7 linked regions of the Homo sapiens genome follow. The protein of the gene in region 2 purifies or fractionates together with the protein of the main gene of each other region. This does not show direct contact. Each region holds a gene or a part of one and is shown on either strand. Other genes may lie near its edges.

Region 1 (4,204 bases), on a different chromosome or scaffold from region 2:
CACTTGCATAGAGTGACAAGGGACACTGCAGTGGCTCTGAGACTGAGCACACACCCGGAGCACGGTTTCCCGCACGCTGGCACACGGGGACTGCAAGGCACAGAGCAGCACGTCCACCTCCTCCTGCTCTGCAAAGGCACAGCCATCATCACCACTGCTGCTGGCACACAGGGTGGTCAGGGTGTCTGAAGCCAGAACCTAAGGAGAACATCAATCCACTGGTTCAGTCAGCAACTCATTTACTACTAGGGGGCCAGAGAGGGATATGCACTGAGAACACCCACCCCTACAGCACTGCAAGGGCTAAGACCCCAGCTCCAGTGGCAGGACCCAAGCAAAACCCCTCACTAGCTAACAACAGTCAGGCTGGCTCTCTAAAGCAGTCTTTCTACCAAAGTCCAAAAGTAAGGGCTGAAAGGAAACTAGGACTCCACCCTTTACACTGGGACTTGAGGTCTGGGTCACGAACTGAGTCACAGCAACAGCCAACTGAAAACCACATCACCTGTAAGCGAGGCGAGCCCGTCCCGATCACCCAAGTCAGAAGACGCAGCATGGCCACGCGAGGCAGCAACTCCGGGCCATTCTAGGAGAGAACGGCAGGTAAGTCGAGATGAGGCTGTGGGGAGGTCTGTAACCCAGGCGGCCAACGGCAGGGCATCCTCTCACCCACGGGGGAACATTCTGGATCATACAACCGGCCCCACCACAGAAACCTCATTAAGTTTACAACTAGGTCCACAGGTGCTAACCCCAGTCAACCATGATCCTCAGGAACTAAAAACTAAATTCTGAAACTTGCTTGAAATTCACACTATGAAATCCAGAAAGACCGTAAATATATGAAGAGACACTCAACTTTAAATGAAATGCAAAATAAAATGAGATTATCATTCTTTCACTCATCACTGACGATATTAATACTATCTGAGGTTGCATTAAGGCTTTGAGAAAAGAAAACTCTTGGTGAGAGTATAGCTCAGAATATGCCATATAATCTAGTAATTCCATGTCCAATGAACCTGTCCTAAAGAAATGCTCACACTGGTTAAGTAAGGGGCATATACATACAAGAGGGCACATCACAGTGCTGTTCAAAACAGGAAAAAGTTAGAAACAACCTTAAGAACTCATCAACAGGTAAAGAGTTAAGTAAAACATGGTACATCCATAGCACAGAATCTCATGCAGCCAACAAAGTCAATCAGGTGAACTGACATGTACTGGCATGGCAGGAGAGCCAGAGTCTACAATCACATGAAAGAAGCAGTCTGACCCGTTTTTGCCTTAAAAAACCCACAACACTGTGTGAGGCTGCTGTTGGTATAAACATACACTCTCTATTTCCCCACCAGGAACTGTTCATGAGACAAAACGTGTCCACAGGCCCTGCCTCCCTGATCCCCTTTAAACCAAGAGGAGAGCAGAGCTTCCCTGCCAACCTCGTCCACCCGCCCGGGTGGGGTGTTGGGGGAGGCCCTCAGCTGGGCTTGGACAGTGAGGATCTGAAGAATCTGGGCCATCCACTCCTCCTCCTCCTCACTGTGGTGGGGCATCTCCGTCAGCACCATCTTCAGAAACGGGAAGACTAAGGAGAAGGCTGGCGCGGACAAGGGCGCAGCACCTGTGAGAGCGAGAAGCAGATAAGATTCTGCAGGCAGGGCAGGGACCCGGGCCACTGCTGCCTATTTCTATCCTCAGGGAAAGTAGGGAACGGATGGACCAGAGGCCCGTTCTGACACCTGGAAGCACATGGCACGAGGACAGAGACAGCAGCTGGTAGTCCAGTTCTAAAACCAATTCTGCTTCTACTGCCAAACACTGCCCAGTTCCAGGATGTGAGAGTTAAAACAGAGATGGGGACACCAGTGACAAAAAGTAAACCCTCAACTGGGCTCACTGCAATTCACAGACTACGAAGGTTCAATTCAGAAATCCTCCATATGGTCCAATCCCCCAGGCTCAGGAGGCCCTGGGTGACGCTGTGCCTTGAGCAGCATTCCTGGCACCAGCTCACACCGCCTGGTGCCCCTGATCCCGTCCCAGCCCTTACCTGGCTCCCCCTTGCCCACCCTGCTGGTGATGGTGTGGGTGTGCAGCAGCATCACCGCCCTCTTCACAGCCACCGACAGCTCTTCCTGGCACCAGGACTTATCCAGGACACACTCTGGCTTCAGCAGGCGCAGGGTCACGTGGCTCACCAAAGTGCCTGTGTTGAAGAGGAGAGACCCAGCAGGAGATGACACACAGAGATGTGGAATCCAGCCCAGGCTAAAACAGGGGACCCAGTGCCTCATCCTTCTGACTTAAAAAAATATTTCTGCGGCTGGGCGCGGTGGCTGATGCCTGTAATCCCAGCACTTTGGGAGGCCGAGGCGGGCGGATCATGAGGTCAGGAGATTGAGACCATCCTGGCTAACACGGTGAAACCCCATCTCTACTAAAAATACAAAAAATTAGCTGGGCGTGGTGACGGGCGCCTGTAGTCCCAGCTACTCAGGAGGCTCAAGAAGGAGAATGGCATGAACCCGGGAAGCGGAGCTGGCAGTGAGCCAAGATGGCGCCACTGCACTCCAGCCTGGGTGACAGAGTAAGACTCCGTCTCAAAAAAAAAAAAAAAAATCTTTCTGCTTCGCCAAAATGTCCCCAGCCTAATTTCTCACTTGATCTTTGTGACAGCCTCAGAGGGCAGGTAGGCAGAGAGTTGCCCTTTGGACATTTAAGAAATGAGTACGCTGACAGGAGACAAGGGCCACCAAAGAGTCATTCAGCCAAGAGTACAGCTCTATCTGTGCAGCATCTCCACCTCTACGCAACAAGCCCAGACAGCCAGGTGACACTTCTGGCAGGTTTCATATGCACCAGCTGACTTTTCCACTCAGAACAGTTCCCAGATTCTAGCCTCACCCGTGGGAACATCACCGTTAGGCCAGGATAGAAGTCTGCTGAAGGCCACTAAACAACCCACAGAAGCAAGGCCACCAGAACTGCCAGCCACCCTACCTGGTGTTTGTTTCTCCAGAGCTAAGAGGAAGCTAAAGGTCTCAAGGGCCTCTGCTCACTGCTGTCATGTGGCTGTTCAGGAGATCTGGGCTGGGCTGAGCCACCAAACCATCCTCACTGCCACTGAACTTCTGACTTCTTAGTTTTAAAACTGGTATACAAAGATCGAACACTGACTAGCATCTAAAACCTACTCCTCAGAGGGAGGGCACAGATGTGAAGTGGGAGAGAAGAGGAGGCACTACGTCTCTCCTAAGCATATCCAGCTTGAGTCTCCAAGGCTGCTTCCACAAGAAAACAAAACTCAGCAGCTGAGGTCACCACCCACCTCCCCACAAGCACTCAGGGGCACACCCTGTCCAAGCACTCAGGGGCACCCCTGGGCCATCCCTGCAGCCAGCAAACAAGGACTAACCCAAAGCCTTGAGCCTAGAGGGCATGACACAGGCAGCCAAGGACAAGAAGGGGTTCTTGATCCTGGGAGCAGCCAGGGGAGACTTCAGCAAGGGCAGAAAAGAGTCGACCAAAACAGGGATGTACTGGGTCAGGCCGGACGGGTTCTTGGCCAGGATGATGTCCAGCAGTCCAAGCGCCGCCTCCAGCTCCCCATCCAGCTGCAAGCAGAGTTGTCCAGAAGGCAGGTCAGCAGGGCCCTGCTTGTGACAGCAAGCAGCAGGACCAAGCTGCCCAGCACTCTTCCGGCTTGAGCATGTGGCGGAGGTGGCCACTCACCTCCTGCAGCCGCCTCCGGACCTGCGCCTCCCTGTCTAGCTGGGCCTGCAGCATCTCCTTCTGCTTGCTGGTCAGCTGCACCTCCTCTTTGATGCCTTTCTTCTTCTTTATCTCCTAAAGAGGATGGGCAAACCAACCAATCCCATCTCCAGGGAACAGACCTCCCTCCCCAACAGAGGAAGGTGAGCTTGCTTCCACACAAACAGCACCATACCAGCTCTAAGTGTGAGTTGGGCCCCTGAACCCACCATGTGCACCCCCAACCTCCCACAAAGTCCACAGCCACCTGGTTTCTATAGAATGGAGACAGCAATAGAGAAGTAGTTGTTTTACTGGATTCTCTACTGACAAAGGCTAAGAGGGCTTTTTATGTTAGAGAAATAAAGGTTCCTCAATGTACTCAAAAGGGTATTCTGACAGCCAAATGGATTCAGAATCAAAACTTTAGCCTCCTCCTCTCCAACCCCTT
Region 2 (4,204 bases):
ACTACTTCTGATGTTATAAAGACTAGTTGAGACAAAGCATATCCTGTGGAGGACATTTCTAGTGCATTGTTAACTTTTGTTTTGTTTTGAAGACAGAGTCTCTCTCTTTTACTCAGGCTGGAGTGCAGTGGTGCAATCTCGGCTCACTGAGAACTCTGCCTCCTGGGTTCAAGCGATTCTTATGCCTCAGCCTCCCAAGTTGCTGGAATTACAGGCGTGAGCCACTATGCCTGGCTAATTTTTGTTAACTATTAACAGTATGTAATGTCAGTTCATGACATCTATGAAAAAAATATATATATACACTCATAAGCATTTGTTATGGAGGAGGCATTATTCTAAGAGCTTTATATGTTTTTGTTCGTTTTGGTTTGTTGTTGTTGCTGTTTGAGACAGGATCTCATTTTGTTGCCTAGGCTTGAGTGCAGTGGCATGATCTTGGCTCACTTCAGCCTCCATCTCCAGGCTCAAGGGATTCTCCCACCTCACTTTCCCAATTAGCTGGGACTACAAGCATGCACCACCATGCCTGGCTAATTTTTTTTTTTTTTTTTTTTTTTTTTTTGGTAGAAACAGTTTCACCATGTTGCCCAACCTGGTCTCAAACTCTAGGTTCAAGTGGTCTGCCTGCCCCAGCCTCCCAAAATGCTGAGATTATAGGTGTGAGCCACCATGCCCAGCTGTTTTGTTTTGAGACAAGGTCTCACTCTTTTGCCCAGACTGGAGTGCAGTGGTGTGATCACAGCTCACTGCAGCCTTCAATTCCTGGGTTCAAACAATCTTCCTGCTTAGACTTCCAAAAAGCTGGGATTATAGGCATGAGCCACTGTGCACAAGAATTTTATAAATATTAACTCACTTAATACTGCCCACAACCCCATCAGAGAAGCACTGTTATTATCCTCATTTTACAGTCAAGGCTGCTAAGCTTAAGGATGAAGTAAGAGGCTGGAGCATGTTGGGTGGCAGTGAGGGAACTTTCCTACTGCATCCAGAAAGGCCTCTCTGAGGAGGTGACTTAGGAGGAAGTGAGGTTAACAGCAGGAAGAAAAGGCCTGGGAGTTGAAGGTTCATCCCTGGTGTGTTAGAGGAACAGCAAGAAGACGGGTGTGGCTGGAGAGGGTGGGTGAAGGCAGGGGTGCTGGGAGACAAGGTTGGGGATGGGATGGCAGGGCTAGAGCTGCTAATGGCTCATAGGGAGGAGCTTGGAGTGGTTCTAAGTGTCATGGGAAATTGGTGGCCACCCAGTCGCTGCGAGAAAGCCGTCAGAATGGAATCAGTGGGCCTGGGTCCTGCTGTGTGTCCTTGGGAGGGCCACACACCCTCTCTGATCCTGTCTACTCACCTGCATCAAGCCAGTTTGTACAAGCTGATGTCTGAGGGCTTCTTTTTGCTCTGCATGCTCTGGTTCTACTGAAGGAAGAGAGGGACCTGTTGGTTGTATCCAAATCCCAATCCCCTGGGCCCAGGTCCTCAGACTGTCCCATTCCTGCCTCCCCTCTTTACTCCCCTGGGTCTGGCCTCCCAGAAAAGGTTGGGAAACCAGGGGGGCTGTTGCAAGCCCTCAAGTGGCCTTGCCAAACCCAGCCAGAGAGGCTTTCTTGCACCAGGTGACCCAGACACTGCAGTGGGTTGTTCGCAACTGGACAGACCTAGAGAACAGCATCGTGTCAGTGGAGCGGATGCAGGACTATGCCTGGACGCCCAAGGAGGTGATGGGCGGGAGGTGGGGAGGGGGTCCCAGCAAGGACATATTGTGGGGGGGGGCAATGGGTCCCTGTTGACATCTGCTACAGGCTTTGGAGTTTATACCCTCTTCTCCCCTCACTCAACCCCCACCACTATAGGTCAGAGTCACAGACAGGGTGGCAGCAGTGGTTAGGAGCATAAGGTTTGGAGCCAGGCCAAATCTTGGTTCCTTTGCTTCTGAGCTTGAGGAAAGCAGGTCACCCATGGGAGTGCAGGGAACCACAAGGAACAGCATTGCAACAGCAACATAGCTGCAACATGATAGTAACATAATGGCAACAGCAACACAATGGCAATATTCCAGAACATGAGAGTAATGCAACAGCAATGTAACAGTAATGTAACAGCAACATAACCACAATATTGCAGTACCAGAATAGCAACATAGCAGTGTAATAGTAACATAATAGAGACATTATAGTAACATGATGGCAACATTCCAGCAATACAACCACAACATAGCAATGTAATAGTAACGTAATAGCAACATTTTAGTAACATGATAGAAACAAAACAGCAACATAGCAATGCAATAGTAACACAACAGCAACATCATAACATGACAGCAACATCCCAGCAACACGACTGTAACAGAGTAACAGAGTAGCAACATAACAATGTAACAGTAACAAAACAGCAACATTATAGTAACATGATGGCAACATTCCAGCAAAATAACTGAAATTATAGTAACGGAATAGCAACATGGCAATGTAACAGTAAGAAAACAGCAACATTATAGTAACATGATGGCAAAATTCCAGCAACATAACAGTAGCATTATAAGGACAGAACAGCAACATAGCAACGCAACGGTAACAAAACAGCAACATGATATAATGTGTTAGCAATATAACAGTAACATTACAGTAACAGAACAAGGAAGAATTAATTAGTTGATGAATAGGGTAGAAGAAATGGTGAGAGATGGACAGATGAATGGATGGAATGGGATGGAAGAATGAGAGATGGAGGGATGGGATTGGAGATGGATGGATGGATGCATGGATGGATGGATGGGTGGGATGGGGTGGATAAAGGATAAGAGATGGATGGATGAATGGATGGATGGGATTGGGTGGAAGAAAGGATAAGAACAGCAGCATAGCACTAATGTAACAGTAACATAACAGCGTTGAGTTTACTGGGAGGATCAAATGAGATCCTGCAAAGAAATGATTTAATAGAGTGCCTGGTCCATTGCAAACACTCAATACATGTCTGCTGCTCTTATTAGCCCTATTTCCCAGATTGGAAAACCAAGACTCAAGGGGGTAGAATGATCTGTTCAAGGTCACGGGAACAGCAAAGGCAGTATTGGTCTTCCCACTGCACAGTCATGTCCTTTCACAAAGACAAAGAGAAATGTCTGCTCCCACTATAGAAAAAGAGATTATTTTATAATAAACAGTGGCTAATAATAACAATAAAATAGACTAAAAGTAGCCACCACCATCTGTTTTTAGCATTGACATAGTCCATGCCCTCTCTTGTTGAATTCCCATAACAACCCTGTAAAACAGCAATAAATACGTCCATTTTGCGGAAGAGAAAACTGAAGCTGATAGAGGTGGGCCATCTTGTGTGAAGTCTTAGAGGAAGGCTCCTCTGACTCAGTTTCCCCTCCTGCTCCAGGCTCCCTGGAGGCTGCCCACATGTGCAGCTCAGCCCCCCTGGCCTCAGGGCGGGCAGATCGAGTTCCGGGACTTTGGGCTAAGATACCGACCTGAGCTCCCGCTGGCTGTGCAGGGCGTGTCCTTCAAGATCCACGCAGGAGAGAAGGTGAGTGGTTCTCTCACAATGTCTTCTTCATGGAGTTTAGGCCAAAGGACTCCAGGGACAAGGCCCTAAACCCTGGGCACCAGCCACCTCCACAGTGTCCCCACCTCAGGTCCCCTAGCTTTCAGACCCATTACCCCCTAAAATGAACTCCTCACCTTCCCCAAACCTGCTTCCATCTGGTGACTTCCTCATCCACCTTGGTGTCCCCAGATGAGGAAGCAACTCCGTGACTTCCTTCTTCCTTTAACATTAACCCAGCACCTAATATGTGCTGGGCAGTGTGTTAAATGCTCCAGGTACATTTTCCAGTTTGCACAAATGGGATATTTGCTTTCAGCTGGGAGACATTGGGAAAAGCACTTCATAGCTCAGTCTCAGTTTTCCCATCTGTAAATTGGGACTGGTAATACTGATCTCTGAGTTGTTGTGAAGTTTGAGTTAATACATAGAACATGCTTAGCTCATAGAAAGTGCTCCAGAAATGTTTACTAATGCTTTTATTATTTGCGTTTTCACTCTCACAACAACCCCTAAGTGAGGTGCTAGTACTATCCCATTTTACAGATGCCTCATCAGGCCCCTTCACTGAATCCCTTTCCTCCCTCCCTCTGAACCTACAGAGGCTTCCTCCCTGTCCTCTCCTTGTCCCCTAAAAAGCAGTGGATCCTGTCTC
Region 3 (4,204 bases), on a different chromosome or scaffold from region 2:
TAATAAATTAATTTTAAATTACGCGTATTTTATTTATGAACTACTAGAATGGATTTTTTATTGTGGTAGCGTATACAGAATTTACCATTTTTAACCATTTTTAAGTGTACAGGTTAGTGGCAGGCATTAAATACATTCACATTGTTGTGCAGCCATCACCACTATCCGTCTCTGGAATCTTTTCATTTTTCCAAACTGAAACTGTAAATTAATGTTTAAAAGAATGTTATAAAAATTATATTTCCTGAAATACTGACGAAATAATGGCTGGTATCACTTTAAAGATCTGAAACCTTAGCATTTAGGTTGCATTTCACTATTGGTCATTGTTTTACTGCCTATGACATTTATTTTTTGGTTTTGCCATGGGAAATACATATTTTGTCTTTAACAGAAAATTTAAAGGAATATAATTTAAAGCAAACACAGCTGCGACACTACATTCAGGAGCTCAGAAAGTACCATTAAAAATAGTATATACCTAAGATGACAAAAGAAGATGAAGTACACCAGAAATGATTGTATGATGCTTTCAGTGGGCTAGGCCTAGAAGGTAAAACTCTGTAGGAAACAAAGTTTTATGAGATAACGTGTAAAGTGCTTAGCCTAGTGCTTGGTACATCACAGTGCTCATTAAATTTAGTTCACTTCTCCTGTGCACACTTAGCATGTTATTAGTTAACTGCTTTAAATTTTCTTTTCAAAGGAAAATGGTTTTATTTGCAACTATTTCTTGCTACATAATTTTGAGTGAGTAGCATTATCATTTGAATTTGTCATCAGAAAAGTGCTAGCAATCATTAGGCATAGGTAGAGCTGGATTCCAAGACTAAATCAGTGTAAAGATGACATCTTGTTTCTCTGCAAAGGCTCATGGCTTTATGTGGGTCCTTAAATTAATCTGAGAAGAGTATATCTCTTTTATGGTTGCAGATTGTGAGCCGCTTAGTATTACTTAGAGTTTTGCTTCTCTACTGCCTCTTTTTTTTTTTGGAGGCGAGTCTTCAGTAATATGCTTTTGTAGTGTTTGAAACCTTTGGGTAAATACCTATGCTTTGTTGTCAAGACCAGCTTCTCATACTGCTTACCTATTATGGTAAAAAGAACTGTGTTTCAGGCTTTGCTGAAGAGATATTTTTCTAAAGGTCTGTGCTTTTTGAGTGTTGATTTATTTTACTCTTTCAAAGAGTAAACAGTCACAATAACCTGTAGGACTCACGCTTGGGTAAACTCTTACTTAAGACTTGTGTGGATGGGCAAAGGTGATTAAAACTTTGTTTACAATTTTCAGTGGCATAAAACATAAAATAATTTGATTGATTTCATTATACTTGTAAACTATCTGACAATATTATCTCAGTGCTTAGACTCTTTCAGCATGCTGCTGGTTATTTGCCTAGTTAAAATAAAATTGTATGTGTATTTTTCCCATCATGTAATAAGTAAGAACATTATAAAGATACAATAAAAATGAAATAGAATAAAAATTAAAAATCATTTTATACATTTTTTTCTTTATGAAGAGTTTGGCATTTATAGTGTAAAATTTGTGACTAGTTTACTTTAAAACTTTCATGTTGATAGGAGATATTTAAAGAAAATGAGTTAGCTAGGGAGGTTTTAAAAAAAAGGTGATGTGTGGAACTTACTGTTGATGTGAAGCAAGTGCAGGTCCGCAATCCCTTATCCACAATTTTGATATATAAAAAACCCAGTTTTTGGTAAAATGTATTTGATGATAACATCTGACCTAATCTCACATTAGAATACTTGTGGTCTAGTCATTCCTCTTGATGTAAATAATAATGCCTTTTGCTGGAGGAATATGAATGTATTTGATTTCAGGGTGTTGCCCAGATTTTCAAGAGCATTTTTGGGAGTACACAGTATATGTACTGTGTACCTTTCTAAAATCCAAGAAATTCTGAGTTCGGAAACATTTTGGTCCCAGGGTAAGGCCAATGTAGACTAAGTAAGGAAATACGGACTTACATACACTTCAGTAGCTGTAAATAAATAGTGGATAATTATCTTGAAACCTAACTTTTTTGTTTTTTATTTCCCAAGTCTTGATCAGATAGCCCTCTTTTTCCCATTTTGAATTCTAAAAATATAGTATGCAAATATAAGTTACGAAGCGTAAAAACATATTCATGAAATCACCACACAAGTTAATAAGTGGAACACTAGCCTGTAGAAGTTACCTGTGTGCCGTCGCCGCTGCTGGATTCAGTCTTCCTGCATCCTCTCTCATCTGCTACCCTGAACATTTTATTGTTCCTTTGCTTCATTTCATAGATTACTACATTTGTGTGTATCTCTAAACAATATTGTTTAGTTTTACTTGTTTTTTTAACTTTATAAAATGTCAGCATTTTTATGTATTCTTTTATGACTTGCTTTATTTACTGAAAATGGTGTTTCTAAGATTCACTAACATTGTGGGTTATTCATATTCTCTGCTATGATAATCAGTATAGCTCCGATCTACTTAATGGATATTTACAGTTTTCTTTCTTTCTTTTTTTTTTGTTTTTTTTTTTCTGTTATGGAAAGTGTTGCTAGGAGCATTTCTGGAGCTCACGTGAATAATTCCTGTAGATTAGGGTATATATCTGGGAGTGGAATTGCTGGATTTTAAGATATACTATGTTCAGTCAACTTAATATAATGGATAGAGTTGAAAATTTTCCCCATGATGTTATTATAGAAAATTTCGAAGTATAGTAAGGGTGAAAAAATCGACAGTGAACATCCATATATTTACCGCATAATTAATATTTTGCTGTATTTGCTGTATTTTCTTTATCTGTCCATTCCTTTATCCATCTATCAATACATCTTTTATTTTTGGTTCACTTAAAGTAAATTGGAGATATTAGTATACTTCACCTTCAAACACTTCAGTATGTATTTAATTAAGAAGAGTTCAATATTTGTTTAGATTTTTTAAAGATTAAATTTGCATGCAATGAAATGCACAGATCTGAAGTGTACCGCTGGTGAGTTTTGACAAATGCACACACCTATTTAATGCAAATTCTTGTAAAAATACAGACCATTATTACCAACTCAGAAATCTCCTTCACACCTTTTCAGCTAATTTCACACACCATTTTCTTCTATTAGAGGCAGTCATTCTTCTGATTTTTTTTTTTTTTTGCAGTAAAGATTACTTTGACTTCTTCTATACTTCATAAAAATGGAATCATATAGTATATACTTTTCTGTGTCTGGCTTCTTTAATTTAGCATTGTTTCTGAGAGTTATCTGTGTTATTGTGTGTGTCAGCAGTTTATTCCTTTTTCTCATTGTTGAATTGTCTTCTGTTATATGTATAAACTGCAGTTTGCTTGGATATCTCGTGTTGATGCATACCTGGACTAGTTTTCAGTTTTTTGTTTTCAGAATGTACACTGGTCCCTTGGTGTTCTCCGGGGATTGGTTCCAGGATACTTGCCTTATAGTCTGCCTACGTACCAAAATCCGACGACGCACAGTCCTTTTTATAAAATGGCATTAGTATTTGCATGTAATCTGTGCATATCCTCCATATACTTTAAGTCATCTCTAGATTACTTACAATGCCTAATACGATACTGTATTGTTTTAGTTTGTATTTTTTAATTTTTATTTTTTTTCCAAATTATTTTTGATCCATGGTTGGATTCATGGATACAGAGTGCTGAGTGTATTATATATTTTGGCTTGATTTTTTTAAAATATGGAGACAAGATCTTGCTCTCTTGCTCAGGCTGGGATGCAGTGGTGTAGTCATAGCGCACTATAACCTTCAACTCCTGGTCTCAATGATCCTTCCAACTTAGCCCCTCTAGTAGGGACTACAGGCCTGTGCCACTGTAATTGGCTAATTTTTATTTTATTTTATTTTTGCAGAAATGGGGTCTTGCTGTGTTGTCCAGGCTGGTCTCAAACTCCTGGCCTCAAGTGATCCTCCAGCCTCAGCCCCTGAAAACGTTGGATTAGAGGCCTGAGCCACTGCACCCAGCCTACTTTGGCTCTTAATACAGTTGTTATGAAAGTTTTCATTTCTTTTGGGTAAATTAAATACCTTGTAGTGGAATTGCTAACTCATAGGGCAGATATGTGTTTACTTTTTAAGAAACTGATGGCCAGGCATGGTGGCTCATGCCTGTAATCTCAGCACTTTGGGAGGCTGAGGTGGGTGGATCATTTGAGGTCA
Region 4 (4,204 bases), on a different chromosome or scaffold from region 2:
AAAATCTTTAATTCACACTTTCTGTTCTTTTGCCCCTGCCTCCTATTCATCTAGCTCCCAGTTGGTCCTATTATTTGTCATCTTAATTCTGTATGTTAGGATCTGATTCCAAACCTTTTTTCTCCCTGTCTTTTCGCCATTTCCTGCCTTTTCTCTCTTATCCAACATAGGCACACCATGATACATCATTTTAACGACTTTGTTGCCATTATTGTGAGCTTTTGCCTTGTTTTTCCTTCCATCCATCCAGCCTTGGATCAATGTTCCTGCCTTCTCTGTACTTGTAGACTGCTGGGTGCTACTAGGAAAAATCAGTCTTGCAGGTTGGTCCACTGCATATTCATGGTCTCCAGCCTCAGCTGTTCCACATTCTCTCTGCTCCTGGTCAGTTCTTCAGTAGTGGCTATTTTAGAGCTTTTCCACGTTCTTCCTCAGAAAACCACTCTATCCCTGCTCCCTGCCTCTTGGCTGGTATGCTCACTACCTATTTTATTTTATAAAGAAAATAGAAACCATTGCACAAGAACTACTTTTCCACTGTCTCAACAAACTTACATATCTCTGTCCCACCTGTCATTTCTTCCTATGCTGCTGTCACTGGAATTTGTGTCCTAATTGCTCTCAAACTAGTCTTGCCACCTATGCCCAGCTGCTGCTCAGAGATCTCTATTAGTTACTTTTTCTCTTGGGTCACCTTTCCCTTTATTGCTTTTACTCCATCAGCATAAAAATATCTCTAGTTTCTTCCATTTATACTATAAAACCCACTTCTCAACTTTTCCTTTACTTTCTCTTGGAGCAAACACTGCGTCCTCTGCTTTTAACAGCCACACTTGGCTATGTGTGGTAGCTCATGCCTGTAATCCCAGCACTATGTAAGGCTGAGGTGGGAGGATTGCTTGAGGCCAGGAGTTGGAGACCATCCTGGGCAGCATAGCAAGACTGCCATCTCTAAAAAAAAAAAAAATTAAAAGTAGCCAGGTGTGGTAGCATTTGCCTGTAGTAGTCCCAGCAACTTGGGAGGCTGAGGCAGGAGGATCACTTGAGTCCAGTGGTTTGAGGTTTCTGTGAGCTGTGATTTGTGATTGCACCACTGCACTCTAGTCTGGATGACAGAGTGAGACCTTGTCTCTTAAAAAAAAAAAAAAAGCCAGACTCTTTCAGTTCTCTATACTTGCTGTCTCTTTACCTCCCACTCCTTCCTAAATGTTAAGAGTTAGAGGGGGGAAAAAAGAGAATGAGTAGGACCCAAGACCATTAAGAGTCCCCCAGAAAGCCAACTCATCTGGGGTTCCAAATCCCTTCAAGTTTATTCTCATGTGACTTTTTTTTTTTTTTTTTTTTTTTGGTATATCACGTGGTAGAAAAGGTGGGAATAGTAATAATGATAACTAACATTTATATAATTCTAACAACAACCTGTGGTATAAATGCTATTATTATCCTTTTCTTACAGTTGAAGAAACTGAAGCTGAGATTAAATAATTTGTTCAAGGTCACACAGCTAACAAATCATAGAGCCAGGCAGTATTCAAACGCGTGCATTCTGGCTCCATCCAGAGTTTGCACTATTAGCCATTAAACACAACTTTATATTTCTGTCCTGCAGTCCTCAGTACATTTCTTAACTTGTCTCAACTGTCATCATCTGGCTTCTTTAGTTACCTCTTTAACTTCTAGTTCCAGCAACCCCTTGTTACCACTAAACCTTGGCGTGTGTTATTCCCTTTTCCTTAGCACTCTTTTCTTGCTTCATTCATGTAGGGACTGTCCAGATTTAACTAATGCTAGTTCTTTGCATTTTTCTTTTAATTACATAAAATTTCTGACATAGTTGGAAACAATGTTTTACCTTTCCAGACCTATTTTCCTCACTTATCAGTGATAACCACTATTCTGAAATTATGTATCAATATCATTTGTTTTTATTGTTTTACTACATATGTGTCTATTATCATTTTTTATTTAAAATGTAACCTATTGTATCTTTTTGTAGCTTGCATTTTTACATATAAGCCTATTATTAAGCAGGATTCCCCCACAATGATAGATGTATACTTGATCCATATTAATCTCTATATAGTATTTCATTGTGAGAATATGCTTTATCTGTTCCTCTATTAAGAGTTGTTTAGGTAATTTTCCCTTCTGTGCCATTTGTCAAACAGGGCTGTGATGAATAGTGTATGTGTCTCTATATGTAGTTGTTTGAGAGTTTCTAATATATATGCCTAGGAGTGGAATTGTTGGGTCATAGGATTGATTATATATCTTTAAACTGACTTGGTTTCACCAAATCCTTGCCACAATTTGGTATATATCTGATTTTTTCTCCTTTTTCTAGTCTAATGAATTCACAGTAGTATCTTTTGATTTGCATACTCCTGATTGTTGGAGAGGTCAACAGTTTTTCATGTTTCTTAACCATTTGTATTTCTTCTGTGAAACATCTGTTCACCTCATTTGCCCATTTTCTGTTTATCATCTTGTTTCTTATACATTTATGTTGGTTGTCTTCTCGTTACTTTATGTTAGCTGAGTAAAAGTTCCCTCCACCCAAATTCTCTTGCCTTTTATTCCCAATAAGACCCCTTGCTTATTAAGCCTGATGCTTGCTCATGCTATTCCTTTTTTACATGACATAACTTTCTTTTTTTCTTTTTCTTTTTTTTTTTTTTTTTTGAGACGGAGTCTCGCTCTGTCGCCCAGGCTGGAGTGCAGTGGCGGGATCTCGGCTCACTGCAAGCTCCGCCTCCCGGGTTCACACCATTCTCCTGCCTCAGCCTCCCAAATAGCTGGGACTACAGGCGCCCGCCACTACGCCCGGCTAATTTTTTGTATTTTTAGTAGAGACGAGGTTTCACCGTTTTAGCCGGGATGGTCTCGATCTCCTGACCTCGTGATCCGCCCGCCTCGGCCTCCCAAAGTGTCTTTTTTTCTTTTTAATAGAGATGGAGGTCTTGCTATGTTGCCTAGACTGGTCTATGAACTCCTGGTCTCCAGTGATCCCCCTGCCTCAGCCTCCCAAAGTGCTGGGATTACAGGCATGAGTCACTGGTGCCCAGCCTTATGTATCATAACTTTTTTACAATAGTTCTACCTTTACTTTTTACAGTGCTACTCCTCTTTTAGTCTTTATTTCATATTTTCATTTGCTCACTCATTCAACAAACATGCCAGTTAATAAGACCCTGGTCCCTGTCCTGTGGCACTTAGGAGGGTCAGATGAAATGCTACTTTTTGCATGAAGCCCTTCCTGACCTCATTAACTGGAAGTAATACCTTTCTGTCCTGATGCCCACAGATGTACTGTTACATTTAAAAGTTTTTCCATGTTTTTTTTTTCTATTCAAGATAGATTATAAACTCCTTGAGGCAGGGACAGCTAATTGCATGGAAGTAATCAATTATAGTAGAATATCAGATGTGTTAGGCATTAAATTGCTTGTTTTAGTCAGATCACTAAAATTTTGATTTCACTAATAATCAGTTGGGGTGTAAGTGCAAAGCTAAGATTTGAATTCTAATTGTGACACTAAAGCCTTAACTATTATATGCATTAACTATTATATGCTTAACTATTATATGCATTGTTCCATAGTGTTTGGTTTCACATTTATCAGTAATATAACCTTGACCTTTTGTTATTTATTTATGTTTTTGACCAGAGACCCATCTATTTTGGATAGTTTAGATTTGAATGAAGATGAACGGGAAGTACTCATTAATAATATTAATAGGCGCTTGACCCCACAGGCTGTCAAAATTCGAGCAGGTAAATGATTTTTTAAATGATTTTTACAGTATTTTGCATGCATCAAAAAAGCTATTAAATAATGAGACTTACCAAAGAATATGTTGCTACATCAACATCTATAAATTTTTCTAAATGGTTGTTTTTTATAACAAAAGCTTAAGAAATTATTTTGGCTTCTGAATCATAAAATTTATATATTGACACAAGTAGAAACAGTCTTGTGAGTTCAGCTAACCTAAAGGTAGCCCTTTTTTTAAAAAGAGGGGTTTGATTGTTTTGTTTTAGTGCATACTTTAAAATATTCCAAATTTTTACAAAGATGAGACATACCATGCGGAATTTTCTCCAACTAGCCTTTTCCACCCAGTGTATCATAGGTACCCTTCCATTGCAGAACATAGGAATCTTTCTCATTCTTTTTTATGCTGGGTAATGTTTCATAGAACA
Region 5 (3,214 bases), on a different chromosome or scaffold from region 2:
ATCTGCAGCAGAACAACTATGGAGTCAAATCTGTAGGCCAGGGTTACAGTGTTGGTCAGTCAATGAGACTGGGTCTAGGTGGCAACGCACCAGTTTCCATTCCTCAACAATCTCAGTCTGTAAAGCAGTTACTTCCAAGTGGAAACGGAAGGTCTTATGGGCTTGGGTCAGAGCAGAGGTCCCAGGCACCAGCAAGATACTCCCTGCAGTCTGCTAATGCCTCTTCTCTCTCATCGGGCCAGTTAAAGTCTCCTTCCCTCTCTCAGTCACAGGCATCCAGAGTGTTAGGTCAGTCCAGTTCCAAACCTGCTGCAGCTGCCACAGGCCCTCCCCCAGGTAACACTTCCTCAACTCAAAAGTGGAAAATATGTACAATCTGTAATGAGCTTTTTCCTGAAAATGTCTATAGTGTGCACTTCGAAAAAGAACATAAAGCTGAGAAAGTCCCAGCAGTAGCCAACTACATTATGAAAATACACAATTTTACTAGCAAATGCCTCTACTGTAATCGCTATTTACCCACAGATACTCTGCTCAACCATATGTTAATTCATGGTCTGTCTTGTCCATATTGCCGTTCAACTTTCAATGATGTGGAAAAGATGGCCGCACACATGCGGATGGTTCACATTGATGAAGAGATGGGACCTAAAACAGATTCTACTTTGAGTTTTGATTTGACATTGCAGCAGGGTAGTCACACTAACATCCATCTCCTGGTAACTACATACAATCTGAGGGATGCCCCAGCTGAATCTGTTGCTTACCATGCCCAAAATAATCCTCCAGTTCCTCCAAAGCCACAGCCAAAGGTTCAGGAAAAGGCAGATATCCCTGTAAAAAGTTCACCTCAAGCTGCAGTGCCCTATAAAAAAGATGTTGGGAAAACCCTTTGTCCTCTTTGCTTTTCAATCCTAAAAGGACCCATATCTGATGCACTTGCACATCACTTACGAGAGAGGCACCAAGTTATTCAGACGGTTCATCCAGTTGAGAAAAAGCTCACCTACAAATGTATCCATTGCCTTGGTGTGTATACCAGCAACATGACCGCCTCAACTATCACTCTGCATCTAGTTCACTGCAGGGGCGTTGGAAAGACCCAAAATGGCCAGGATAAGACAAATGCACCCTCTCGGCTTAATCAGTCTCCAAGTCTGGCACCTGTGAAGCGCACTTACGAGCAAATGGAATTTCCCTTACTGAAAAAACGAAAGTTAGATGATGATAGTGATTCACCCAGCTTCTTTGAAGAGAAGCCTGAAGAGCCTGTTGTTTTAGCTTTAGACCCCAAGGGTCATGAAGATGATTCCTATGAAGCCAGGAAAAGCTTTCTAACAAAGTATTTCAACAAACAGCCCTATCCCACCAGGAGAGAAATTGAGAAGCTAGCAGCCAGTTTATGGTTATGGAAGAGTGACATCGCTTCCCATTTTAGTAACAAAAGGAAGAAGTGTGTCCGTGATTGTGAAAAGTACAAGCCTGGCGTGTTGCTGGGGTTTAACATGAAAGAATTAAATAAAGTCAAGCATGAGATGGATTTTGATGCTGAGTGGCTATTTGAAAATCATGATGAGAAGGATTCCAGAGTCAATGCTAGTAAGACTGCTGACAAAAAGCTCAACCTTGGGAAGGAAGATGACAGTTCCTCAGACAGTTTTGAAAATTTGGAAGAAGAATCCAATGAAAGTGGTAGCCCTTTTGACCCTGTTTTTGAAGTTGAACCTAAAATCTCTAACGATAACCCAGAGGAACATGTACTGAAGGTAATTCCTGAGGATGCTTCAGAATCTGAGGAGAAGCTAGACCAAAAAGAGGATGGTTCAAAATACGAAACTATTCATTTGACTGAGGAACCAACCAAACTAATGCACAATGCATCTGATAGTGAGGTTGACCAAGACGATGTTGTTGAGTGGAAAGACGGTGCTTCTCCATCTGAGAGTGGGCCTGGATCCCAACAAGTGTCAGACTTTGAGGACAATACCTGCGAAATGAAACCAGGAACCTGGTCTGACGAGTCTTCCCAAAGCGAAGATGCAAGGAGCAGTAAGCCAGCTGCCAAAAAAAAGGCTACCATGCAAGGTGACAGAGAGCAGTTGAAATGGAAGAATAGTTCCTATGGAAAAGTTGAAGGGTTTTGGTCTAAGGACCAGTCACAGTGGAAGAATGCATCTGAGAATGATGAGCGCTTATCTAACCCCCAGATTGAGTGGCAGAATAGCACAATTGACAGTGAGGATGGGGAACAGTTTGACAACATGACTGATGGAGTAGCTGAGCCCATGCATGGCAGCTTAGCCGGAGTTAAACTGAGCAGCCAACAGGCCTAAGTGCCAGGTTCCCTGGCGTTGGTGACATGCTGCAGCCTGGAACTCTGATATCCAGTGTGACTGCAAAGCTGTCTTCTCACTGGTACTGCCTTGTGAGTACTGGTTGGACTGTGGGGCATGTGGCCGCTGCAGTTCCAGTGGTTATTTCTAAGTCTATGACAGGACAGGCTGTTCTTGCTTCAGAACCTTCTCTGACAGACACGGTAACTAAATGTGAAAAACCAATAAGCTGGTGACTCATGAATACACACGAGGAAAAGCAGAGGTTTATTTTATCTGCCTTTTCAACATTTCTTTCCCTCTGTGAAATGATTGGTCAGATGTCTTTGAGAAGTGTTAAACTAATTCACATGGTAGTGTAGGGCCAACATACAAGCTACCAGTCTAATGTGTATAGTAGACTTTGGGAAAAGCGATTTTTTTTCATGTATTCATTCTGAATAGTTGAAATGTATATTTGTACAGTCTTTTAGACCTATTCAAGTGATGCTCATGATCCTGTTACTGTGTGCCCATCATAGATTTCTTTTTTTAGTGTTGCCCTTGCTGTGTAATAAACGCTCTATCTAGTTTACCTAGCAAAAGCTCAAAACTGCGCTAGTATGGACTTTTTGGACAGACTTAGTTTTTGCACATAACCTTGTACAATCTTGCAACAGAGGCCAGCCACGTAAGATATATATCTGGACTCTCTTGTATTATAGGATTTTTCTTGTTCTGAATATCCTTGACATTACAGCTGTCAAAAACAAAAACTGGTATTTCAGATCTGTTTTCTGAAATCTTTTAAGCTAAAATCACATGCAAGAATTGACTTTGCAGCTACTAATTTTGACACCTTTTAGATCTGTATAAAAGTGTGTTGTGTTGAAGCAGCAAAC
Region 6 (4,204 bases), on a different chromosome or scaffold from region 2:
TGAAAAAGGACTTTTTTTTTTTTTTTAAAAAAAAGAAGAAAATATGTGACACTGTGTCCAGAGTTGGTTCCTTCCAGTGGGTTCTTGGTCTCGCTGACTTCAATGAAGCCGCGGACCTTCGCAGTGAGTGTTACAGCTCTTAAAGGTGGCATGGACCTGAAGAGTGAGCAGCAGCAAGATTTATTGTGAAGAGTGAAAGAGCAAACCTTCCATGGCATGGAACAGGACCTGAGTGGGTTGCAGCTGCTGACTGGAGTGGCCAGCTTTTATTCCCTTATTTGTCCCCTGCCCGTGTCCTGCTGATTGGTCCATTTTACAAACCTCTAGCTACAGAGCGCTGATTGGTGGGTTTTTATAGAGCACTGGTTAGTGCATTTTACAAACTTCTAGCTAGCTACAGAGCGCTGATTGGTGCGTTTTACAATCCTAGCTACAGAGTGCTGATTGGTGCATTTTATAATCCTCTTGTAAGACAGAAAATTTCTCCAAGTCCCCACTCAACCCAGGAAGTCCAGCTGGCTTCACTTTCAACACTACAAGATTTTTGAGGGGGTGAGGAGAGAAAGATGGTTATTTGTGCCAACTCTTCCTATTTTGGTACCATTGCTAATAGTCTCAATAGCCTCCTTGACTTCAGATCCTTAGGTTGAGAGTTAAGGGAAAGGAAGGACTTTTCAGTCCCTTGGATATTTCTGAATGGAATATAATGTAATGTAATAGCAGTATAATAGTGTAATGGATTTCCAGTTTTTGTTAATAACAGCTAATATAATTGCATATCTGCTAATTGAGTGTTATCGAAGAAAGTGATTGGATTCCAAATTGATGATATTTAACTGCACCATGTTATTTATTTCTCTTATGATAGACAGTTTGTTACTCTCAACCACATGTCACATACTTGACTCTTCTGGCCTCTTTTAAAATTTTAAACTGCCTATATTGAGATAACTATAAATTCATGTGTAGTTGTAAGAAATAATACAGACAGATCACCCTTTATCCAGTTAGCCCAATGGTTAACATCTTGCAAAACTGTAGTATAATTTCATAAACAGGATATTGACATTGATACAGTCAATATAGAGAACTTTTCTATAACCACAAGTATCCTTCATGTTACCCTTTTCTAGTCACGTGCCTCCTGCTTCCACCCCCTTCTCAGTTCCTGACAACCAGTAATCTACTCTCCAATTGTATAATTTTGTCATGTCAAGAATGTTATATAAGTGGAATCATACAGAATGTAGCCTTCTGGGATTGCCTATTTATAGTCAGAATAAGTCTCTAGAGATTCATCCAGCTTGTTGTGTATCAATGGTTTGTTTCTTTTTATTACTGAGGAGTATTCATGGTATGAATGTACTTCAGTTTGTTTAACCATTCACCTGTTGAGAGACATCTGGGTTGTTTTCAGTTTGGCCTATTACAATTACAGCTGCTATAAACATTTGTATACTGGTTTTTGTGTGAACATTGTCTTCATTTTTTTGGAATAAATGTCCAGGAGCATGGTTGCTGGGTTGTATGATACTTGCATGTTAGTTTTTTAAGAAACTGCTGAATTGCTATCCAGTTTAAGAAACTGCTAAATTGCTATCCAGTGTAGCTGTGCCATTTTCCATGTCTACCAGCAATGTATGATCCAGTTTCTCTACAGCCTTGCCAGCATTTGGTGGTGTCACTGTGTTTTTATTTTAGCCATTCTGGTAAGTGTTTAGTGATAGCTCACTGTAGTTTTAATTTGTATTCGCCTAATGGCTAATGATATTGATTATCTTTTTATAGATTTTTAAAATAAATTTATTTGCCATTTGTTATCTTTTTCAGTGAAATGCCCCTCCTTGGGTTTTGCCCATGTTCTAATTGGATTGTTTACATTTTTATGGTTTATTTTTTACAGTTCTTTGTATGTTCTAGATACTAATACTTTGCTGGATATCCAGTTTACTTTTTCATATTTATTTAAAAGTATCTTGTTTGTATCTATAAAAACTCTTCTTGGGATTTTGATAGGAATACACCATTACATAAGTAGGTAGGCATTATCCACCTAATCTTCTCAATGATGAAATGTCCCATAGAGGGGAGGGACCGTGTTGAAGACAGAGGATGTGGATGGGACAAAGGCACTGAGAATAGGGGAAAAGTGATAAATGAGACATACGTGGGGTGGAAGTTGTGGTGGTTGTCATTTGTTATGCATTAGGGTTCAGTAAGTGAATAATCTTAAAACTATTAAAATTAAATTTCACTTAAGAGGGTGGTCTTACTCCATTGATGAGTTTTCAGTTTCAACTCACTTAGTAAACATATATGTTTACCTTCTGTGCCTGGAACTGTGCTTTAAGCTGGGAATATAGGGGTTGTGAAGACTCTTATTTATTGACCCATTGAAAATTATAGTCTAGTGAAGAAGGTAGCTGCTATAGAATCTCAAGCACCATTGGTGGTCTTTTACTGAACCAGGTGGTAGGAGAACATTGTTCTTAATTGGAGAATCAGTGTGTGGTCAGGATATTCAAATTTCAGGCTGGTTGATCAAGCCTGACTATGAATTTATTTTGCCAAGCCAAGATTATTAGATAAAAATTAAAACTTGAAATTTATCCTTCCCTTTTTTCCTTATGGACCTTTTACAGATGGATCATTCCATTTTACTGTGTCAGCAGTAGGAGGCCATGTTATGTGGCAGATTCGAGGGCAGGGCTCAGGCCAGCAGGTAGTCTCCTTAGAGATGTTAAGCTGTTGATCGGAGGCACTGTCTTGCCTTCTGAATAAAAAGTTTGTGTTCGTTCCATCCCAAGGCAGTCTTTCTGTAAGGCAAATATAAATATCTGCCTGTTAAAGCTAGGTAGAATCAGTATTTTAGATCAGCTTTTCAGGATTTCTGCTCTTGATAAAATTTTTGTTTTTTAAAAAGCATTATTATGATTTTAATATAATTCTTAACAGTGCTGAAAGTTAGCATTACCTAAAAGTGACCTCAAACTTAGTAGTGTTTGCTGTAACACTAGAAAAAAATAATTACCTGTAGGTTGCTGTAGGCCATTCAGTGTTCTCTTCTTGATCCTCCCTCTGTCCTCAGTATTTGCCATCAGTACCTGCCTTGACCTCAGGAGCAAGAAGAGTTGACAAGAAATGAGCCCTCTTGTTACCGGAAGGTACTGGAATTGTACTGCAAGAACTGCTGTTCTTGTTTTCTTAGAAGAAAAAATTCAACCAAGAGATGCACAACAAGGGTTAAGTAGCAGAGTTTATTGAAGGAAGATAAAATGCATTCAAAGAGAGGAACGGCTGACTGGCTGGCTGACCTCCTGGAAAACAGTAGTGGCAGTGTTTATTTAAAGAGACAGCACACCCTGAGAGATGATTCAGAACAGGCTGCTGGAAAGAGAGGATGAGCTAGCAGCAGCTAATGCTGGGGGACCCTCTTTATGAGAATATTGCATGATTATTCATGAGGGGGGCATGAGAGGGTATCAGTTGCAACCATGTTTTAAGCAGTCTCCTTGTGTGTACATGCTACATGCTCTGTAGTTGTACATGCTAGTATACACCTCGCATGTCTCATTAGCATTTAAAATCTCCACACAGGGATGTGGTTTTTACTATTATAATGAACAAAAGCCTACTGTGTAGTCATTGCCTTCTTGCAGACGGTCAGCAGGCAGCGCCTCCAGGACTTTTCCCAGGGCTCCCCTGCTTGCTTGTTTCTGGCCATCTGCCTAACATTCTTACGTGTCTTATGGTAACATTAGGGCTAATAGTGAACCATTCAATGAATGACGTTGTTTCTACCCCAGAAATACTCTCACAGTGGTAGGGAAGATATAACTTCTGCTTATTTCTTAGTAATGAGGGCAGTAGGAAATATGAAAGCATTGAGGAGATTTAGAGAAGGAAATTATATCTCACTTCTCTTTGGGGGTGATCAGGAAAGACCTCAAAGAGAAAGTAGCATTTAATGTGGACCTTGAAGGATGATTAGAAGTTTTGTCAGATGGTGGAGGTGAAACACTCCATCTTAAGCAGAACAAATATGAAAAGATAGGAGAGCATGAAATATCAATGAGGAATAACCCAGTTTCACTAGGTAGGGAAATAGTAAGAAACAAGTCTGGAGAGGGAAGCTGGGACTCTGCTGGGCTGGCGAGTTAGAGCAGAGTTCCACGTGAAGTGAGGCATCGTCGAGGATTTAGTT
Region 7 (4,204 bases), on a different chromosome or scaffold from region 2:
TTGGATGACCTGTGTCTCTTTTCCCTTTTGCTTTCTTTCCTATAGCTGCCAAGGAGCCTGGAGCCAGGGTCCCTGTGCTTTAGGCAGGCACTTCTCACAGCCTCGGAGAAGTCCAGGAGCTAGGTCAAGGCAGAGGGTTGGGGGCCACAGACAAGGCCAAGGCGGGGCATGGAACAGCAGGGGTCAGATGTTAGGGGAAGTACGTCGGCACCCGGGTGGGGATCTTGAATACTATGTCAGGCACCCACAACAAGAGCTTTGGGTGCTTTGTGTCTAGGGCCGGGTACCCTTGTTTCTGCTGCTGATGCCGTGTTTCCAGTCTGGATTTTAGCAAAATTAACTGACCCATCCTTCTATCTGATGCCTGTTTTCTTCTCTCTCATTAGGGAGTTCTGGGTCCAGCTTTTAGCCCACTTATCTGCCTCCAGCTTTCAGCCTACTTATCTGCCTTCCTTAATCTTTTCCCCCTTCTAACCTCTTTTGCTGGCCTGTGCTCCCAGAGTTCCCAGAGTCTGTCTACACAACTCCCTGTATGTCCTTGGCCTAGGAATTTTTTCCTGTGTTTCTCTAACCAGCTCCTTAGAACCTGGAACTTGTTTCCATGGTCTATACTTCTTTTCTCTATTTATCCATCTGTCTTCTGATTGAAAAAAAAAATTATTTATTTTTGAAAATTTTTAAATTTTTATTTATTTATTTATTTATTTAATTTTATTTTTGAGATGGAGTCTTGCTCTGTCGCCCAGGCTGGAGTGCAGTGGCGCAATCTCGCCTCACTGCAAGCTCCGCCTCCTAGGTTCACACCATTCTCCTGCCTCAGCCTCCTGAGTAGCTGGGACTACAGGCACCCCCTACCACGCCCAGCTAATTTTTTGTATTTTTAGTAGAGACGGTGTTTCACCGTGTTAGCCAGGATGGTCTCGATCTCCTGACCTCATGATCCACCCACCTCAGCCTCCCAAAGTGCTGGGACTACAGGCGTGAGCCACCACACCCAGCCATTTTTTTTTTTTTTTTTTTTTTTTTGAGAAGGAGTTTCACTCTTGTTGCCCAGGCTGGAGTGCAATGGCATGATCTTGGCTCACTGTAACCTCCACCTCCCAGGTTCAAGCGATTCTCCTGCCTCAGCCTCCCAAGTACCCGGGATTATAGGCATGCACCACCACGCCCAGCTAATTTTGTATTTTTAGTAGAGACGGGGTTTCTCCGTGTTGGTTAGGCTGGTCTCAAACTCCCGACCTCAGGTGATCCACCCACCTCGGCCTCCCAAAGTGCTGGGATTACAGGTGTGAGCCACCGCGCCTGGCTTTTATTTAAAAAAAAAAATTTGTTTTCAATTTTTTGTTGTTATTTTTTTTGTGTTTTTTTGAGACGGAGTCTCACTCTGTCTCGCCCAGGATGAAGTGCAGTGGCATGATCTCAGCTCACTGCAGCCTCCCCCGCCTGGGTTCAAGCGATTCTCCTATCTCAGCCTCCTGAGTAGCTGGGACTACAGGCATATGCCACCATGCACAGCTAATTTTTGTATTTTTAGTAGAGAAAAGAATTTCACCATGTTGGCCAGGCTGGTCTCAAACCCCTGACCTCAGGTGATTCACCTGCCTCTTCTTCCCAAAGTGCTGGGATTATAGGCGTGAGCCACCACGCCTGGCCTTAATTTTTTTTTTTTTTTTAAAGAGGTGGGGGTCTCACTATGTTGACTAGGCTGGTCTTGAACTTCTGCCTTCAAGCAATGCTCCCATGTCAGCCTCCCAGAGTCCTAGGATTACAGGCGTGAGCCACTGTGCTCAGCCTGAAAAAATATTTACTGAAGCCCTCTTTATGGTAGATGCCGGGAAAATATTGTTAGTTTTTGCTAGACCTTGCTGAGATGGCTTGGGTAGGAAGGCATCTTAGAGACTGGTTGGGGTGGGAGCAGAGCAAAGGGTTTGGAGCCTCTGAAGAGGCTTCTGGTCCCTTAGACTGAAACCATCTTCCATCTTTTTTTTTTTCTTTCTTTGTTTTGAGATGGAGTTTCGCTCTTGTTGCCGAGGCTGAAGTGCAGTGGCACAATCTCAGCTCACTGCAACCTCTGCCTCCTGGGTTCAAGTGATTCTCCTGCCTCAGCCTCCTGAGTAGCTGGGATTACAGGCACCTGCCACCACACCTGGCTAATTTTGTATTTTTAGCAGAGATGGGGTTTCACCATGTTGGCCAGGCTGACCTCCAGCTGGCCAGGCTGGTCTCGAACTCCTGACCTCAGGGGATCTGCCCACCTCAGCCTCCCAAAGTGCTGGGATTACAGGCGTGAGCCACCGCGCCCAGTTCATCTTCCATCTTTTCACCTCCACTGCATAGATGTGCCTGTTATATTTCTGAGCCCCCTTCCCCCAGCATTGACCTTGGGGTGGTGACAGTAGAAGGCTGAAACCAACATAGCTGAAACCTCTGCTTCTCTCACCTGGCAGGTAAAAGCAGCTGTTAAGTATGCCCTTAGCGTAGGCTACCGCCACATTGATTGTGCTGCTATCTACGGCAATGAGCCTGAGATTGGGGAGGCCCTGAAGGAGGACGTGGGACCAGGCAAGGTAAGGACTGGGGTTGTAAATAGAGGTGGGATAAGAGAACTTAGAAGCTGAAGCTAGGGCTGGGGCCCAGCTGGAGGGAATCTGGCATCAGCTTCCTTCCAGTTCCTCTCCCAGAGTTGAGGGTGGGTGAGACCACGTGCTCATGGCTCTTCTCACTGTGGGCCCTGCCCCCTGCACTAGGCGGTGCCTCGGGAGGAGCTGTTTGTGACATCCAAGCTGTGGAACACCAAGCACCACCCCGAGGATGTGGAGCCTGCCCTCCGGAAGACTCTGGCTGACCTCCAGCTGGAGTATCTGGACCTGTACCTGATGCACTGGCCTTATGCCTTTGAGTGAGCCTTGCCAGAGCCTCATCTGGGGAATCAGGGGGTTGAGCAGGATGGTGTTAGTAACTTATTGTAAGTCACAGCAGCAGAGCAGGATAGGAACACTCATTTGCATGCCAAGCTGAGGAGCTTGACATGGGATCTTAGCCTCTTCTGCTACAGCAGCTTAGCTGTAGCTACAGGAGTTTAACTCTGGAAAAAGGAAGGCAGTCTCACATGGTGTGTACCCCAGGGTATGCACCTGTAACCCTCCTGCTCCCTTTATTCATTTAGAAAAGGTGCTGACTTTTCTGTTGAGCACCTGGGGTTACAGTAATAAGTAAGTCTCAGCAGAAGATGTGAGAAGAGCTCACCATTAGTGCCGTGCCCTGTGCTGGAAGAAGGGTGGATAACTCCCTGAGGATGAGTTAAGGAAGACTTCCTAGGGGAGAGGAGATATCTACGTCTAGGAAGAGGAGGGGGCATAGGCATTCCATGTAAACTTAACACCTGGGTTACGATCTGGAAGGATGAAAAAGCATGGCTTTTTTTGGCCAGGCGCGGTGGCTCACGCCTGTAATCCCAGCACTTTGGGAGGCTAAGGCGGGCGGATCACGAGGTCAGGAGATCGAGATCATCCTGGCTAACACGGTGAAACCCCGTCTCTACTAAAAATACAAAAAATTAGCTGCGCGTGGTGGTGAGCGCCTGTAGTCCCAGCTACTGGGGAGGCTGAGGCAGGAGAATGGCGTGAACCCAGGAGGTGGAGCTTGCAGTGAGCTGAGATAGTGCCACTGCACTCCAGCCTGGGCGGTAAAGCGAGACTCCATCTCAAAAAAAAAAAAAAAGAAAAAGCATGGCTTTTTAAAAATTCTTGGCCCTTTGTCCTCTCTGGGATTGGAGTTTGGGACATAGAGTGGCTGGATGGGCAGGTAGGGTAGAAGCCTGGCATTTGTGTCCACACTTGGTGGGGCTGTCTCTCACTCAGGCGGGGAGACAACCCCTTCCCCAAGAATGCTGATGGGACTATATGCTACGACTCCACCCACTACAAGGAGACTTGGAAGGCTCTGGAGGCACTGGTGGCTAAGGGGCTGGTGCAGGCGCTGGGCCTGTCCAACTTCAACAGTCGGCAGATTGATGACATACTCAGTGTGGCCTCCGTGCGTCCAGCTGTCTTGCAGGTAAGGACAGCAAGCAGATGAGTGGTTTAGGGGTTGTCTGCTCAAGAGCATGAGGGAGCAGACGATGGATCTGCTTAAGGGAGATAGCTAGCAAGTTGTCAGAGTGTTGGTGCAGAAGTCCTCTGCATAAAGGTGGGCATTGAAGCAG

The links.
Region 1: the proteins of ABCC6 (region 2) and GCN1 purify together in Homo sapiens (affinity purification with mass spectrometry, with the first as the bait; one large-scale study listed by BioGRID). This does not show direct contact.
Region 3: the proteins of ABCC6 (region 2) and ROCK2 purify together in Homo sapiens (affinity purification with mass spectrometry, with the first as the bait; one large-scale study listed by BioGRID). This does not show direct contact.
Region 4: the proteins of ABCC6 (region 2) and EIF2S1 purify together in Homo sapiens (affinity purification with mass spectrometry, with the first as the bait; one large-scale study listed by BioGRID). This does not show direct contact.
Region 5: the proteins of ABCC6 (region 2) and ADNP purify together in Homo sapiens (affinity purification with mass spectrometry, with the first as the bait; one large-scale study listed by BioGRID). This does not show direct contact.
Region 6: the proteins of ABCC6 (region 2) and SUCLG1 purify together in Homo sapiens (affinity purification with mass spectrometry, with the first as the bait; one large-scale study listed by BioGRID). This does not show direct contact.
Region 7: the proteins of ABCC6 (region 2) and AKR1A1 purify together in Homo sapiens (affinity purification with mass spectrometry, with the first as the bait; one large-scale study listed by BioGRID). This does not show direct contact.

Annotation. Positions count from the first base shown.
Region 1 is NC_000012.12:120,156,407-120,160,610, forward strand, and holds part of GCN1 (stalled ribosome sensor GCN1), read right to left. Parts: intron 3,850-4,204; coding exon 3,736-3,849; intron 3,618-3,735; coding exon 3,419-3,617; intron 2,210-3,418; coding exon 2,054-2,209; intron 1,625-2,053; coding exon 1,443-1,624; intron 587-1,442; coding exon 506-586; intron 199-505; coding exon 55-198; intron 1-54. UniProt on the Homo sapiens protein: Ribosome collision sensor that plays a key role in the RNF14-RNF25 translation quality control pathway, a pathway that takes place when a ribosome has stalled during translation, and which promotes ubiquitination and degradation of translation factors on stalled ribosomes.
Region 2 is NC_000016.10:16,156,990-16,161,193, reverse strand, and holds part of ABCC6 (ATP-binding cassette sub-family C member 6), read left to right. Parts: intron 1-1,610; coding exon 1,611-1,712; intron 1,713-3,384; coding exon 3,385-3,531; intron 3,532-4,204.
Region 3 is NC_000002.12:11,337,870-11,342,073, reverse strand, and holds part of ROCK2 (rho-associated protein kinase 2), read left to right. Parts: intron 1-4,204. UniProt on the Homo sapiens protein: Protein kinase which is a key regulator of actin cytoskeleton and cell polarity.
Region 4 is NC_000014.9:67,376,991-67,381,194, forward strand, and holds part of EIF2S1 (eukaryotic translation initiation factor 2 subunit 1), read left to right. Parts: intron 1-3,668; coding exon 3,669-3,775; intron 3,776-4,204. UniProt on the Homo sapiens protein: Member of the eIF2 complex that functions in the early steps of protein synthesis by forming a ternary complex with GTP and initiator tRNA. This complex binds to a 40S ribosomal subunit, followed by mRNA binding to form a 43S pre-initiation complex (43S PIC).
Region 5 is NC_000020.11:50,890,524-50,893,737, reverse strand, and holds part of ADNP (activity-dependent neuroprotector homeobox protein), read left to right. Parts: coding exon 1-2,333; 3' UTR 2,334-3,214.
Region 6 is NC_000002.12:84,435,012-84,439,215, reverse strand, and holds part of SUCLG1 (succinate--CoA ligase [ADP/GDP-forming] subunit alpha, mitochondrial precursor), read left to right. Parts: intron 1-4,204. UniProt on the Homo sapiens protein: Succinyl-CoA synthetase functions in the citric acid cycle (TCA), coupling the hydrolysis of succinyl-CoA to the synthesis of either ATP or GTP and thus represents the only step of substrate-level phosphorylation in the TCA.
Region 7 is NC_000001.11:45,564,122-45,568,325, forward strand, and holds part of AKR1A1 (aldo-keto reductase family 1 member A1), read left to right. Parts: intron 1-2,447; coding exon 2,448-2,567; intron 2,568-2,747; coding exon 2,748-2,899; intron 2,900-3,860; coding exon 3,861-4,056; intron 4,057-4,204. UniProt on the Homo sapiens protein: Catalyzes the NADPH-dependent reduction of a wide variety of carbonyl-containing compounds to their corresponding alcohols.